Linked DNA regions of Homo sapiens: regions 2 and 3 are each linked to region 1. Evidence: fine-mapped expression QTL. A gene starts in region 1. Each other region holds a variant in brackets. All regions are shown on one strand. Distances are between the middles of the regions.

Evidence for each region.
Region 2: its variant is fine-mapped to the expression of CD300LD in whole blood (TOPMed, PIP above 0.99).
Region 3: its variant is fine-mapped to the expression of CD300LD in whole blood (TOPMed, PIP 0.95).

The regions. Positions count from the first base shown.
Region 1 is chr17:74,590,094-74,595,323 of GRCh38, reverse strand. CD300LD (CD300 molecule like family member d) reads left to right here and starts at 3,041. Exons shown (of 4, transcript NM_001115152.2): 1 at 3,041-3,161. The coding sequence starts at 3,122. It overlaps CD300LD-AS1 (CD300LD antisense RNA 1), which reads right to left. Exons shown (of 3, transcript NR_171003.1): 2 at 4,579-4,805; 3 at 1,115-3,340. RefSeq lists an enhancer at 3,008-3,137.
Region 2 is chr17:74,567,256-74,572,485 of GRCh38, reverse strand. It overlaps CD300H (CD300H molecule (gene/pseudogene)), which reads left to right and starts at 4,977. Exons shown (of 4, transcript NM_001405511.1): 1 at 4,977-5,137. RefSeq lists enhancers at 2,170-2,899, 2,900-3,630. The variant C/T (reference allele first, on the strand shown) is at 2,703.
Region 3 is chr17:74,557,868-74,563,097 of GRCh38, reverse strand. It overlaps CD300H (CD300H molecule (gene/pseudogene)), which reads left to right. Exons shown (of 4, transcript NM_001405511.1): 3 at 201-264; 4 at 2,274-2,927. The coding sequence ends at 2,397. Among named protein-coding and RNA genes, the nearest start is that of CD300H, 7.0 kb to the left of the region's middle. The variant A/C (reference allele first, on the strand shown) is at 2,564.

The DNA of each region.
Region 1 (5,230 bases):
TAGAATAGATGAGCATAACCTGGTGTGTTGTGTGTGACTGTTGATCTGGCAAAAGCATCCTTTCCGCCACCATCAGGAAGGAGGAACAGAGGCAGGCGCATTCGCTTGGCATGGACAACAGTATACTTTCACAGTCTTGTTCCAGGACTGTGTTAATTTTCTTCTCCTTGTAGTATTGTTCTAAGAAACCTGAATCGTCCAGCCATTGCCCAGAACATAAAGGTAGTCCCCTGTGTTTATGACATCATGCTAATTGCACCTGATAACAAGAAGAGGCTAGCAACTGGATGTGCTCCAGAGGCTGGGAGATAAACCCTACACTGGTTTAGGGGCCTGCCGTGTCAAAAGATTAGGGGTATGGTGGTCTGGGGCATATTGGGTGTACCCTCAGAGTAAAGGGCAGATAAAATAAATTGCATTTTGCAACTCCTACTTCTAATTGACCCACCTGATAAAACTCAGGGGAGGCTTTGAACTCAGAGCCAGCAGGTGTGATGAAGAGTGTGGGTCAGAAGTGGGAATGGAGACTGGGGACCCAATTGGAGCTTTGTTCATGGAGCAGTTCCACAAACATGTTTTTGTTTTGTTTTGTTTTGTTTTTGAGATGGAGTCTCACTCTGTCACCCCGGCTGAAGTGCAATGGTGTGATCTCGGCTCACTGCAACATCCGCCTCCCAGGTTCAAGTGATTCTCCTGCCTCAGCCTCCCAAGTAGCTGGAATTACAGGCGTGCGCTGCCATGCTGGGCTAATTTTTGTATTTTTTGGTAGAGACGGGGTTTCACTATGTTGGCCAGGCTGGTCTTGAACTCCTGACCTCAGGTGATCCACGCGCCTCGACCCCCCAAAGTGCTGGGATTATAGATGTGAGCCACTGTGCCCGGCCAAACATGTACATCTTTACATATACCCCAAATGCCTGGAGGCAGGCACTGACCCCCAGGCAAAAGAGCAGGAATTCTTTATTTTAATGTAATATCTGGGAAGCCATGGCAGTGAGAATGCTGGAGCTCAACTTCAATCCTCTTCAGTCTAGAGTTTAGAAGACCGCTCTCTGCCCACGCCCCTTAAAGTGTAGCTTGTAAGTCAAGAAAGAATCAAGGGTTCAAACAATTTGGCATGATAAATTGGAACTATTTTCTTTTCTTTCTCTTTCTTTTTATATTTTATTTTATTTCAATAGTTTTTGGGGAGCAGATGGCTTTTGGTTACAAGGATAAGGTCTTTAGCAGTGACTTCTGAGATTTTGGTGCACCCTTCACTGGAGCAGTGTACACTGTACCCAATGTATGGTTTTTTATCCCTCATCCCCTGCATCCTTTCCCCTAAGTCCCCAAAATCCATTGTATCATTCTTGTGCCTTTGTATCTTCATAGCGCAGCTCCCACTTATAAGTGAGGATGTACAATATTTGGTTCTCCATTCCTGAGTTATTTCACTTAGAATAATGATCTCCAACTCCATCCAGGTTGCTGTGAATGCCATTATTTTGTTCCTTTTTGTGGCTGAATAGTATTCCATGGTGTATATGTACACCGCATTGTCTTTATCCACTCATTGCTTGATGGGCATTTAGGCTGGTTCCCTATGTTTTCAATCGCAAATTGTGCTGCTATAAACATGCGTGTACAAGTGTCTTTTTTGGAACTAGTTTTTTTGCCCAGGCTAGAGAGCAGTGGTGCAATCTGGGCTCACTGCAATCTCCACCTCCCAGGTTCAGGCGATTCTCCTGCCTCAGCCTCCTGAGTAGCTGGGATTACAGGCGTGTGCCACCACCTGGCTAATTTTTGTATTTTTAGTAGAGATGGGGTTTCTCCATGTTGGCCAGGCTGGTTTCGAACTCCTGACCTCAGGTGGTCTGTCCGCCTTGGCCTCCCAAAGTGCTGGATTACAGGCATGAGCCACCAGAGCTATTTTATATACTATTTACTCCTACATACTCTGAGGTCTCAGTTAGCTACACTTTATCTTGTTCTCAACTATGATTGGATAACCAAGAATCAGCAGACACTTGAGGAAGGCTCATAATATAGAAGAAGCAGACAACAAAACAAAGATGTGACCACTGAGTGGAGGGATATAGTTCAAGGAACAGAAGAGAGTTTGAAAACATCAGTAATCAAAGAACCAAAAAAACTTTTCGAAATAAAAATACAGTCTCTAAAATCAATATTTGATCCAAGGATTGGAAGGGAAAGTACAAGCATGAAATAAACAATATAAAAAGCTCCCCAAATGTAGAACAAAGCCCACAGATATGGAAAATATAAAACAGGAGAGAAAAAATGAATCGATTCAGGAGGGAAAGGGAGAGAAAGAGGGAAGGGACCATCTAAAGAAAGTGGGGAGAGACCGGGAAAGAAGTCAGTTCGGGCGTCAGCAGAACAAGTAGATTACAACAGCAGCCAGGGGAAAGTGTGCAGGGATAGGGAGGATGAAATCAGGGCAAGAGGAGGCTAACGAGAAAAGGCAATTTCTCCATTCCTGACCTTCCCCACTGAGCCCAGCTTTGGCTTCAGAGTGATTTCAGAGTGGCTTCAGAGTGACTCATGATCCCAGTGGAAGTGTTCCTGGGGGAAGGGGCAGTGGGTCAGACAGCCCAGGGCAGGAAGAGGCAATGAGATGTCTTACAGTGGGGCTGCCTGGAAGAAGCCTGGGGCATGGGCTTTCTCCAGCAAGGCTGGGTGTGAGTCCTGTGCACTGTGGTCTTCCCAAAGTGCTCCTCTCCCTGCACTCCTCATGGCTGGCCTTGTCCGTCCTCTCCTCCAGGCAGTAGATCCCGCAGCTCCTCAATGCTTGGGTTCCTCCTGGCTCCTCCTGCTCCTTGGCTCCTACGTGCACTCCCGTGCAAACCTGACCAGTCCCGGACACATTTTCTTTTCCACATGCACAAAAGTTTGGGCACACCTTGCAACATACACTGTACCTTAGTCTTTTCAAAGAATGACACCTCTTTTCTCCTAATATGTAAAAAGAGAAGTAGCTACAGATGTAACAGGAAGTGAGCAAGAGACTTGAAGGAGATTCGAGTAGGTTTGCGGTGTTGACTTCCGAGCTTGGATTCAAGTCCCTGAAGGGCACCAGACACCTGTGATCACCAAGGAGAGGAGAGGAGACAGGACCATGTGGCTGTCCCCATCTCTGCTGCTTCTCATCCTCCCAGGTGAGTGTGGCTGGAGCTTTAAGGCACTGGAATGACAGCGGCTGGCTTGGAGACAGAGACGCTCTGTTCTCAGGAAGGAGACATGTCAGGGAAAATGACAGCGCCAATTCATCCATCCATGCCCATATTCATTAAATAGCAATCAAGTTTTTGTTATCTGACAGGTTCTGTGTTAGATGCTGCAGAAACAAACACACACAAAACAAAACAAGTATAGCTTCTTGTTGGAACAGTGGTTCTCAACCCTGACTGTTCCATATAAACAGATGAATGAACAGATATCAATGAAGGAAGGAACTAATGAGTGAGTCCATTCTTGAAGAACTTTTTTTTTTTTTTTTTTTTGAGCTGGTGTCTCGCTCTGTCACCCAGGCTGGAGTGCTTCTTTCACTTAGCATGATGTTTCAAGGTTACTTTGTGTTGTAGCACAAATCAAAGCTTCATTCTTTTTCATGGCTGCATAGTATTTCACAGTGGATATACCACATTTGGTTTCTCCAGTCATTTGTCAATGAACCTTAGGGTTGTTTCTACCTTTTAAAAATTGTTAGTAATAATGTTATGAACTTTCATAGCACAGTTTTGTATGGAGATATGTTTTCAGTTCTCTTGGGTATATATCTAGGGGTAAAATGGCTGAATCCTATGTTAATTCTATGTTTAACTTTTTGAGGAAGCATCAAACCTTTTTCCCAAGGATTTATATTTGAGTACAGCTTTGGCTGTCATGTCAACAAATTTTGATACGTAGTGTTTTCATTTCTGTTAAAATGTAACAAATCTATGTGCTTCTCATATTATCTATACTCAGATCAAGCTTTGTAAGAAAATTTTTCCTTCCAATCTCAAATTTATTTTCTTTTAAAATAGATTATTATTATTATTATTATTATTTTTATTTTTTTTTTTTTTGTAGAGATGAGGACTCACTTTCATGCCCAGGCTGGTCTCAAACTCCTGGGCTCAAGTGATCCTCCCACTTTGGCCTCCCAAAGTGCTGGGATTATAGGTGTGAGCCACCATGCCTGGCTTCAAATTTATATTCTGTAAACAATTTTCAGATATATTCTCCTTCCTTTCCTTCCTTCTGAGACAGGGTGTGCTCTGTCACCCAATCTGGAGTACAGTGCTGGGATCAGGGTTCACTGCAGCCTTGACCTCCCAGGCTCAAGCCATCCTCCCACCTCAGCCTCCTGAGTGAGTAGCTGGGACTACAGGCATGTGGTGCGACACCCAGCTAATATTTATTTATTTATTTAGTCTCGCTATGTTGCCAGGGCTGCTCTCAAGCTCCAGGGCTCACGCGATTCTCCTGCCTCAGCCTCCCAAAGTTGTTATATTACAAGTGTGAGCTACCACACCCAGCTCTTATTTCTTATAAATAACTTCCAGATGTAGTTTTTCTTTAAATATTTACCTTAATTGTTGTCTTTCCATTCTGATGTAGAACTTTTTTCAGAGTGAACAAATGAAGCCCCTATACCCATCTTTCCCCAGGAGGTCGTGTGTAGTTTCTTAGTTCCCTTCAGATGCCATAGAAAGCAGATTTGGGCATGGAGTCCAATTTCTGTTCCAGGAATTCCTTGGGTTGTGGAGCTCTGCCTGTTTATGGTGAAATTGTCTTCCGCTCCCACCATGGTGACCCTGGTTTTTCAAGACATTCCAATGAAGTCTAAAGTTTTCATTCATCCAGGGGTAATAATAATAATAATAATAATAACAAACATAATATAGTAACATAGAGGTAGATGCCATTACTATTCCCACTTATAGAAAACGAAGTCACAGTGTATTAGTCCATTTTCACGCTGCTGATAAGGACATACCCGAGACTGAGTAAATTACACAGAAAAAGAGGTTTAATGGACTCACAGTTCCACATGACTGGGGAGGCCTCACAATCATGGTGGAAGGTGAAAGGCATGTATTATATGGCAGCAGGCAAGAGAGAGAATGAGAGCCAAGTGAAAGAGGTTTCCCATTATAAAACCATCAGCTCTCATGAGACTTATTCACTACCACGAGAACAATGTGGGGGAAACCGCCCCATGATTCAATTAACTCCCAAC
Region 2 (5,230 bases), 23 kb after region 1:
GATCAAGATGTTGGTAGATTTGGTGTTTGGTGAGGACTCTCTTCTTGACTTGCAGATGGCTGCCATCTTTCTGTATCCTCGTATGGCAGAGAGAGTGCTATGGTCTGAGTGTTTGTGTTTCTCCAGAATTCATGTGTTGAAACTTATTCCCAGTGTGTTGGTATTAGGAGGTGGATCCTTGGGGATAATTCAGTTGTGGGGGTGTAACCCTTATGAACAGGATTAGTACCCTTGTAAAAGAGACCCCAGAGAGCTGTCTTGCCCCTTCCACCATGTGAAGACACAGCAAAAAAAAGTACTCTTTATGAACCAGAAGGTGAGTGCGCAACAGACACTGAATCTGCTAGCACTTTGATCTTGGACTTTCCAGCCTCCACAACTGTGAGTAATGCATTTCTGTTGTTCATAACCCACCCAGTCTATGGTATTTTAAAATAGCAGCCTAAATGGACTAAGAAAGAAAGTGAGATCTCTCTTCTTCTTCTGATAAGGGCACTAATCCCACAATGAAGGCCTGATCCTCATGACCTCATCTAACCCTAATTACCTCCCACAGGCTCATTTCCTAATATCACCACATTACGGGTTAGGGCTTCCACATATGAATTTTTGGGGGAACTCATCAATCCATAGCAGACACCCAGAAGCAGACTTTGTTGTGTTGTTAATTTCCCCTGAAGATACTTCCTGCTATTCTGCAAACAGATATTGAATGAAATAAGACTTGGAGGCCTCTTCCACTTGCCATCTCTCAACCCATCTCACCCCTGCCTGAGTGTTGCAATCCGTACCTTGCATCATGAGAGCCAGAGGTGGGACCCCACCGAAGACCTGGGTTCAAATCCTGACCTCCCCACTTCCCATCATGACAGTTTAGTTCGTCTTTCCAGCTCCAGTCATCTTATTTAAAAGTGACCTGGCAGGGGTGTTGGGATGGGTATGCAGGATTTAAATATACAGAGTGCATGGTACGTAGAAGATCAAAAGAGGAAAGTTTCCCAGAGGGATGCCACCACCTTCAAATGCCTTTGCTCAACTCCTGGGACTGAGCAGGGTGAATATTTTTATTCCTATTTCACAGATGAGGAGACTGATGCTAAGAGACTTTTGCTGATTTGCCTAAAGTCATATAACTAGTGAACAGCAGACCTTAAAATCTGAGCCAGGGCTCCCAGCTTATGGCCAGAACCTTCCTCACTGTGCTACATGGCCCACATCATCAGAGTCAGGTAGAGACCCTCTCTGAGCCGGGCTCCCTATAGCACCCCAGCCCCCATGTTGGGAAGACCCTCCCCACACCCTGCTCCCTAGAGAGCCCTGTATTTGTAACAAGATCCCAAAGAGGCATCCATTGCCCAGAGCCGGTCAGGAGGCTGCCCTCTTGGTGACGTCTCCCTTGAGTGCCAGTGGGGAGGGAAGAAAGTGGGCAGTGGGGTCCACCATCCTTGGGCACTTGCCCATTCTCACCATGATGCACAAGATACTGAGAACTACTCCCCAAATGGATTGACGTCGGGTAGTAGAGGTGAGAGAAGAGAGGCCCAATGCCTTAATACATTCCTGATCCCCTCCCCTGGAAAATATGGAAGGATCGGAGCTCTCACCCTCCAATTCAGCTCACAAGGCTGGGGCCGAGCTCTGTCTGCGTCTCCGGGTGCCCAGATTGGTCCTGCCTTTGTGGAGGCTACAGCCTCACCTGGAAATGGATGCCATGCAACAGGACAATGACAGCACAGGGACATGAGATTAAATACAGAAATAAGCATTGCAGGTAACAGGAACCCCAGAGGGAGGGGTCTGGAAGGCCTGGAGCAGGCAGGGATGCCTTCCAGGAGAGGTGTGGTCTGAGCTCATCCTGGGAGAGTGAGAAGGGAGGATGACGGTTTTCGAGGAAGCAGAAAGACAAGCACAGCCCCGAAAGGCAGAGAGAAATGTGTGGGCTACTCACACTGTCCTACACATCACATGCCCCGAGTTTGCCCTAAGAACGCACCCCTCACTGATGAGATCTTAACTTTCTGGAAGCCCCAAGAGCTGTCCCTCAAGGGCAGCGATGGTGGGGGTCTCAGTGTGGTGCAGTGCCAGGCAGGGCCCCGGGCTCCCCGCCCTCCTGTGCCTCATGGCCAGTGTTCATTATTCTCAGTCCTCCCCTAGCTCTGCCCTCCTGGAGCGGACAGCATTTTCCAGGACAGGTTTCAGAGACAGAAGGACAAGGGCCTGCTGGGGAAGGGACAGCGGCTCCAGATGCTGGCCTTGACATGGAAAAAGCCTGGATGTCCCAGATGTGGGTCATCTCTTCAAGGAATTTGTCATCTCCTGGGGGACTCCAGGGCCCAGAGTACATCTGCTTCAAAGGTGGGTTCCCTGTGGCATTGCCATGTCCTTTGCATTTGGCAAACTGTCTGGTCCTAGCTAAAAAAATGAAACACACACAGGCTGTTTCTAAGCAGACCCTGCAGCCTCTCCCTGCCCCGACCTTGGATGAGCGAGAAGCACGGAGTCGGTGTGCTGCGGGGCACCCTTCCAGCCCGGTTAGGGAACCTCCAGTAGTGGGTTCTGTGGTTGTGGTCAGTGACTTGCCGCCTTGTCCTGTAAGAGGACTGTGCTTCTCCTTCCCACTGACTTCAGGCTTGACCCTATGACGATGAACGGTGAGCAGGAGCCGCATGTGCGCCTTCTGAGCAGAGGCTCAGAGAGCCACC[C/T]GGTGCCTTCCCTCTCCTCTAGCGGACTGGGCTCCGCAGCCTGGTGCCCAAGCAATGCTGACTCACCGCTTGCGTATAGACGAGCGAGAAACAAGCTTCTGTGGTTACAGCATGCTGGGATTAGGAGTTTTGCTATGGCAATGTGAGCCAGAAAGAGCTGACTAATACAACCCTGTGCACCCGGTGGTTTGTCCAGACAAGGATGGCGAGAATGTTTTCTGGAAAAGTCTGCAGCTGTGCGTCATCTCCTTCACAGACTCAGATCCCTTCTTCCCAAGAAAGGCACGTTGAGCAGCCCTTGACGCAGAGTCAGGGAGGGCCAGGCAAGCCTTTCCTTAGCGCCCAGAGCTAGGCACAGAGGGCGGGGCTCGCAACCGGCTCTGCAGGCTGCAAGGGGAGACATCTTTATCACTCCCAGCTCCTGCTTCCCCTCCACACACATGCACGCACCAACCCACACACCACACATATACACCACATGTACACACACACACACCCATACACCTCCCCACGCCCACACATGCACACACCACCCCACACACCACACACATACGCCACATGTAGACACACACCACCCACACCCCCCACACATGCACACACATACACACACCACACACATACACCACATGTACACACACACCACCCACACCCTCCACGCCCACACATGCACACACATACATACACTACACACATCACCCCACATACCACACACATACACCACACACCACCCCACATACCACACACGTACACCACACATGGACACGCACACACCACATACACTCCCACACATGCACACATATACACACTACACACACCACCCAACACACCACACACACGTACACACATACACACTACACACATCTCATCTCATACACACCACTCACATCACACACACCACACACACATTACACACACCCTACCCCACATACTGTACATATACACCACATGTACACACATCTCACACCACACACGTGCACACACATACACACTACACACACACCACCTGTGCACACACACCACACACACATGCAAACACACACACTACATGCACCCCACCCCACACATCACACACATACACCACATGTACACACATACACACACTACACACATCCCACCCACACCACACACACCACTCACACCACACACACGACCCCAAACACCACACACATACACACACACTACACACATCTCACACACACCACTCACACCACACATACACACACACTACACACACACCATCCCACACACCATGCACATACATCACATGTACCTACATACACACATACCACACATACTACACACACTACCCACACCACACACACTACACATATATCCCTCATACCACACCCATATACACACATGTGAACACACACAGAAATATGAGGACTCCACATGCAGCAAAAAATGAACAAGCAGGAAACACATTTACTGAAACACCAAGGAGGAGACATTTGATAACAGAATGCCAGGAATTTGGAGTCTCCTAGTTCCAGAAATCTAAGTCCCTGAGTGAGGCCTTCTGAAGCTGTGCTTGCATTTATAAATCCTCCACAGCCATTCTGTGTATATCAGGCACACTTCTGGCCAGGTTCCCCCGAGTTAGCTCTTGATATATTGAAACTCTTATATGTGGTCATCTTGGGCGACAGGAAGAGCCACACAGGTCAAAAGCAAGGCTTATAGATGGTCCACCAAGCTCTGCGTGGTGCCAGGTCTGTGGAAACAGTCAGGCACGTGGCCAAGACAGGGACCTCTGGGGTCTGCTGAGGTCAGAGCAAGAGTGAGGGGTTAAGAGGTCAGAGCCTCTGAGGTTGCACCCAGCCTATCTGTACCACCAAGGATCAGAGATAGACCAGCGGGCATCGTGGGTGTGCCCCTACCCTGTGCAGTCTCGCAGGCCCGGCTCTTAGAAGGGTCCCACGTTTCATGCTTGGCTGTCACCATCTTGAAATTCTTAATAATTTTGGAAACCTAGGTTTGATTTTACACTGGGCTCTGCAAATAGCCAGTCTCATCCATCCAGTGAAGGCTGAGCCATACCCTGGGGCGGCTCATGCTGGCCACAGAAAACTGGCCATTCACAGAGGGGAGGACCTGCCCAGAAAATCCAGATGGCAGCTGGCCCAGTCTCACTGGTCCTGGGCCATGCTGTGATTTGGAGAAGGGCAGGCCTGTCAGCTGTGGGTAATGGGAGGGACATTGTCTTTACTGGGAACAGAAAGAGGAACAGCAAATGCAAACATGTTTTATTAGGAAGAACTTCAGCAAGTTCTCAAAATTGTTTCACCTGACCACATAGTGCCCCATGGCCCCAGCTTCCTCCATACTCTCACCAGCTCTGAGAACCAAACCCAGAAGAGGCCAGAGAAGGAAACGAGAGATGTGAGAAGGAAAAAGAGCCTCAGACCCTGCTGCCACAAGGGACTTCCATGCTGGTGAGATGACCCAGAGGGCTGGGGCTGCCATGCTGCCTTCAGCTCTGCTCCTTCTCTGTGTCCCAGATGAGCAGGGCAGGTCCTGGGTGCAGG
Region 3 (5,230 bases), 32 kb after region 1:
CATTGGGATGGGGTTGGGGGGATGCTCTGTTACTCCAGTCAGGCTTTGGTCTGCCTATTGGAAGACGATGGTCCTAGAACATCTGTCCAGCTGCCTCCTTGAGCGTCCTCTGCTTTATGAAGTCAGAACCATGCAGGTACCAGGTACTCAGCTGGGAAGAGTCAGGCGTAGGGCACTGAACCTCTGTTCTTTATCCTCAGCCTCCAGTACTGAGAACTCTGTGAAGACACCTGCATCTCCCACCAGGCCCAGCCAATGCCAAGGGTAAAATGCACGTGTCCCAGTGTCTTTTGCCATGTGTGCAGCTTCTTTCCTAGGGTGGGGCTTCCTAGACACAGGTTTCCTTGATTATTCACCCACTCAACATTTATTTATTTATTTATTTTTTGAGACAGAGTCTAGCTCTATCGCCGAGGCTGGACTGCAGTGGCACGATCTCGGCTCACTGCAAACTCCGCCTCCCGGGTTCACGCCATTCTCCTGCCTCAGCCTCCTGAGTAGCTGGGACTACAGGCGCCCGCCACTAGGCCCGGCTAATTTTTTTTTTTGTATTTTTAGTAGAGACGGGGGTTTCACCATGTTAGCCAGGATGGTCTCGATCTCCTGACCTCGTGATCTGCCCGCCTCGGCCTCCCAAAGTGCTGGGATTACAGGTGTGAGCCACCGTGCTCGGCCAACAGGTGTTTATTTGTTATGCGCCAGAAACTGATGGAGATTCTAGAGATGCAACAGTGAACAAAGGGGCAAGATTGTGCTCTTGAGGAAGTTGCAAATAGGTAGATTCAGGCAATGGCCAGATGGATAGATAGATAGACAGACAGACAGGTGGACAGACAGATAGATGGATAGATAGATAGATAGATAGATAGATAGATAGGTGGATAGATAGATAAACAGACAGATGATAGATATGATATGAAAGATGATAGAGATGGCTGGCTGGCTGACTGGAAAGACAGATGGAGATGATAGCTGGCAGAGAGAGATATGTAATAGAGACAGAGAGACGATAGATCAAGGAAATATGTCAACGAATGATAATTACTGTGGAGGAAAATAAAGCAGGTGTAAAGAGATAGGGTGCCAGAGTGTGTGGGAAGCTGGTGGGGCATGATTTGGGCTATCAAGGAAATACAAGATGTTCCACAGAAACAAAGAACAAAGGGACTGTCTTAGTTTGGGTTTCCCCCAAATCAGGTCCTGAGACAAGGACTTAGGAGCAATTTGTTTATTGAGAGGTAATCTCAAGAAGTACATTGAGAGAGCAGAAAGTGAGACCAGGAAAGGGGAAGGGCGGTGAAATGTGCTGTAATGAAGGGGTTATCCCCGTAGTAACTGGAGTCACTGGAGATTAACCCCTCTGGGCACCCTATGAGAGACTGTGTAGAACGTTCCTCAGAACTGGAGACAGAGTCTTCCAGGCAGCAGGCACTCCTGGGGGCATGAATTCTGTGGCCCATCTGGCCTGCTCTGCACAGGAAAATGTGTGCACTCTTGTAGATAACCTCAGGCAGAGATGGGGAGCTTGAGCTGGGAAATCCTTGGTGGGGCCAAGACTGCCTGCAGCTGCCAGGAGCTCAAGTGGGCAAAGGTGATATGGGGCAGGGCGCCAACAGGGTTTGTTACAGGGACTCGTCTTAGAGAGGATCAGGGAGGGCATCAGACAAGCCCTGCAGGTAGAGGGCTGGGAAGGTGGAGAGATGGCACAGCGGCCCATTTTGGGGAGAGAATGCAGCATCTGAGGAGTTGGAATGGGAGCAGTGTAGTGGGACCCACGGAGCGAGACGACTGGCCATGGGCTGAGCTTGGAGAGTTCACTCCTTGGGGTTGAGATTGTTAAGCCGTTTAAGCAAAAGAGCTGTTCTTGTGATCATATTTAATTTGAGTGAAGATGGTTGTAAAGGAGTATTTCATCCTTGAGGTTGTTCCCAGCAAGAGCTGAGTTCCTGCGGGCATCAGTGGCTGAGGGATCTGTTCAGGAAGTTGTTTCTGGGAGCCAGTTCCTGCCTGGGTTAACATATCTCTCTTCTTCTCTATCCCTCACCTCCGGCATCTGTTGGGTCTTGACACTCAAGGTTAATTCTGAGCTGAATGAAGGTCAGGAGCCTGTGACCCTCAGCATGGGGCTGCCTGACCCTGGTACCCACCAGGCTTGATGCTGACATTGGGTTTGAGGGCACAGGACGAGACCTCGAGGGAAGGCGGGGGAGAGGCAGAGCCTGGGACTCCCCGGAGAAGGCAGCTTACTACTAGTCACTCTCTCCGTCTCACAGGTCCCTGCCCAGCAGCACCTGCTTCCTGCTTCTCCCACTCCTGAAGGTGCCTCTGCTCCTGAGCATACTCGGTGCTATCCTCTGGGTGAACAGGCCTTGGAGGACTCCTTGGACAGAGTCATGAACAGGAGAACTTGCAACACCCCATGCCCATTGGAACCCTGTCCAGAGACACAGCCCCTCTGACTGCAAAAAGGACTTCTGACCCTGACCCTCATATTTCTTTCCATCTTATCACCGGATACTTTTTAAAAGTTAAAAAAAAATGTAGGCCGGGTGCGGTGGCTTAC[A/C]CCTGCAATCCCAGCACTTTGGGAGGCCAAGGCAGGTGGATCACTTGAGTCCAGGAGTTTGAGAGCAGCCTGGGCAGCATGGTCAGACCTCATCTCTACAAAAAAATACAAAAATTAGCAGGGTGTGGTGGTGTATGCCTGTGATCCCAGCTACTTGGGAAGCTGAGACAGGAGGATCGCTTGAGCCCCGGAGGTGGAGGTTGCATTGAGTCGAGATTGTGCCACTGCACTCCAGCCTGGGTGACAGAGGGAGACCCTGTCTCAGATAAACAAATAAATAAATAAAATACATCCCATACACAAGAGTATGTATATGAGGTATCTATACAGTTCAAGGACTAAAAATAAACATGTGTACCCACCATTCAGCCTAGGAAATCAATCATTATTAAGATGTTTGAAGCCCCCCATATGCCTCTCCCTGACCTCATAACTGTCTTTCCCCTACTGTCAGGGTTAAATACTATCTGAATATTTCTTGGAGTAATCACTCCCTTGCTTTAGTGTGCTGAGCAAGGACATGGTTGTTTTTGAATCCTGCACAGAGGAAATCATACTGTTGCAAGTTCTTCTGCTCATAAACCATATTGGATTTTTTTCCTTTCCTGACAGTAGATTGTAGGGAACTCCCTACAAACAAACAAAAACAAAACAAAACTGTGATTGGGCCATCAACTGGTTCAGTTTAAGTTGGTTTACTGTTATATGATGGGACCCCTCTGAGTTTTTCAGGGACCAGGTTAATGTATTGAGGACATGTTTAAAAATGTACCTGAGGCTGGGCATGGTGGCTCCCATCTCTAATGCCAACACTTTGGGAGGCTGAGACGGGATGATTGCTTGAACTCAGCCTGGGCAACATAGCAAGACTTCATGCCTACTTAAAAAAAAAATTTAGCCAGGCATGGTGGCACGCACCTGTAGTCCCAGCTTCTCAGAAGGCTGAGGCAGGAGGAATGCTTGAGCCTGGGAGATGGAGGCTGCAGTGAGCTATGATCATACCACTACACTGTGGCCTGGGTGACACAGTGAGACCCTGTCTCAAAACAAAACAAAAAAATGTACCAGGATTTGTTTTAACCAGATATGGTAAGGCATGCAGATACGGAAATGACTGTCATAAAGAAATAAGTTTCTACTCAAAGACCCCTAGAAGCAGGAGGTGCAGTGTGCCATGTAGGGCCACACGGGGAAGCACGAGGGCGGGTGAAGGGGCAGAGAGAGAGAGAGAGGAAATGTATGTGGGAGCCTTTATCATGGTTTTCAGAGGAAGTGATAGGCAAGGTAAGGTAAGCAAACAGCAGGCTTCGGAGTGTGTAGTTTGAATTATTCTGATGGGCTAGGATACAAGAGTGGTCTCTAGTTGTCTGGTACCTGGCCCTGGGGTGATTTAGGGCAGGGGAAAGAAAATATCCCAGACTGCAGGAGCCTGCTGAAAGGAAGCAGGTGGGGGCATGGAATAGGGAATGGTTTGGTTTGCATATCAAAGGCAGACTTGCAGGCCAGTTGTTTACTTTCTCTAGGAATTAGCCCTGGGAGAGAGTTATTTGGATGGATATATTTGCCTATCTGAGTGGCTAAAATAAAAAAATAGTGACTATGTAGCAGGAAGAGCCACAGACAAAACTCCTCAGACACCGAGTTAAAGAAGGAAGGGGTTTATTCGGCTGGGAGCATCGGCAAGACTCCTGTCTCAAGAGCTGAGCTACCTGAGTGAGCAGTTCCTGTCCTGTTAAGGGCTCACAACTCTAAGGGGGTCTGCATGAGAGGGTCCTGACTGATTGAGCAAGCAGGGGGTACGTGACTAGGGGACGCATACACTGTTAATTAGAACGGAACAGAACAGGACAGGGATCTTCACAGTGCTTTTTTATGCAAATAACCGATTAGGTCAGGGGTCTATCTTTACCAGGCCCAGGGTGTGGTGCTGGGCTGTCTGCTTGTGGATTTCATTTCTGCCTTTTAGTTTTTACTTCTTCTTTCTTTGGAGGCAGAAATTGGGCATAAGACAATATGAGGAGTGGCCTCCTCCCTTAACAACACCAAATGCTGAAGGATGTGGTGAAACTGGATCACTCCTATGTGGCTGGCAGGAATGTAAAATGGTGCAAACACTCTGGAAAATAGTTTGTCAGTTTCTTACAAAACCAACCATGCAAGGACCATATGATCCAGTGAACGCATTCTTAGGTATTTATCTCAGAGAATGGAAACTTATGTTCACCCAAAAACCTGTGCATGAAAATTCACAGCAGCTTTATTCATAATAGTCCTGAACTGGAAGCAAGCCAGACATCCTTTCAGGGGTGAACGGTTCAACAAATTGCAGTTCATTCCTACCACAGAATGCCACTCCAGCACTAGAGAGGAGCAAGCTATTGATGTACGCAACAATTTGGATGAATCTCGAGGAGGTTATGCTGAGTGAAAAGCTCCAATCTGCAGTTTACGTACCGTATTGCTCCATTTCTATAACACCCTCAAAATGACAAAAGTACAGAAATAGATGACAAATGAGCAGTTCCCAGGGCTTAGCGATGGGGGATGTGGAAAAAGAGGGATGTGGATATGAAAAGGCCACTGCTTGGACAATGTTTAGTTTCAGCTTAAAAACTCTCATCTCACCCTCTACAACTGCCTCTCCCCTCCAGCCTCCTCTAACATGTC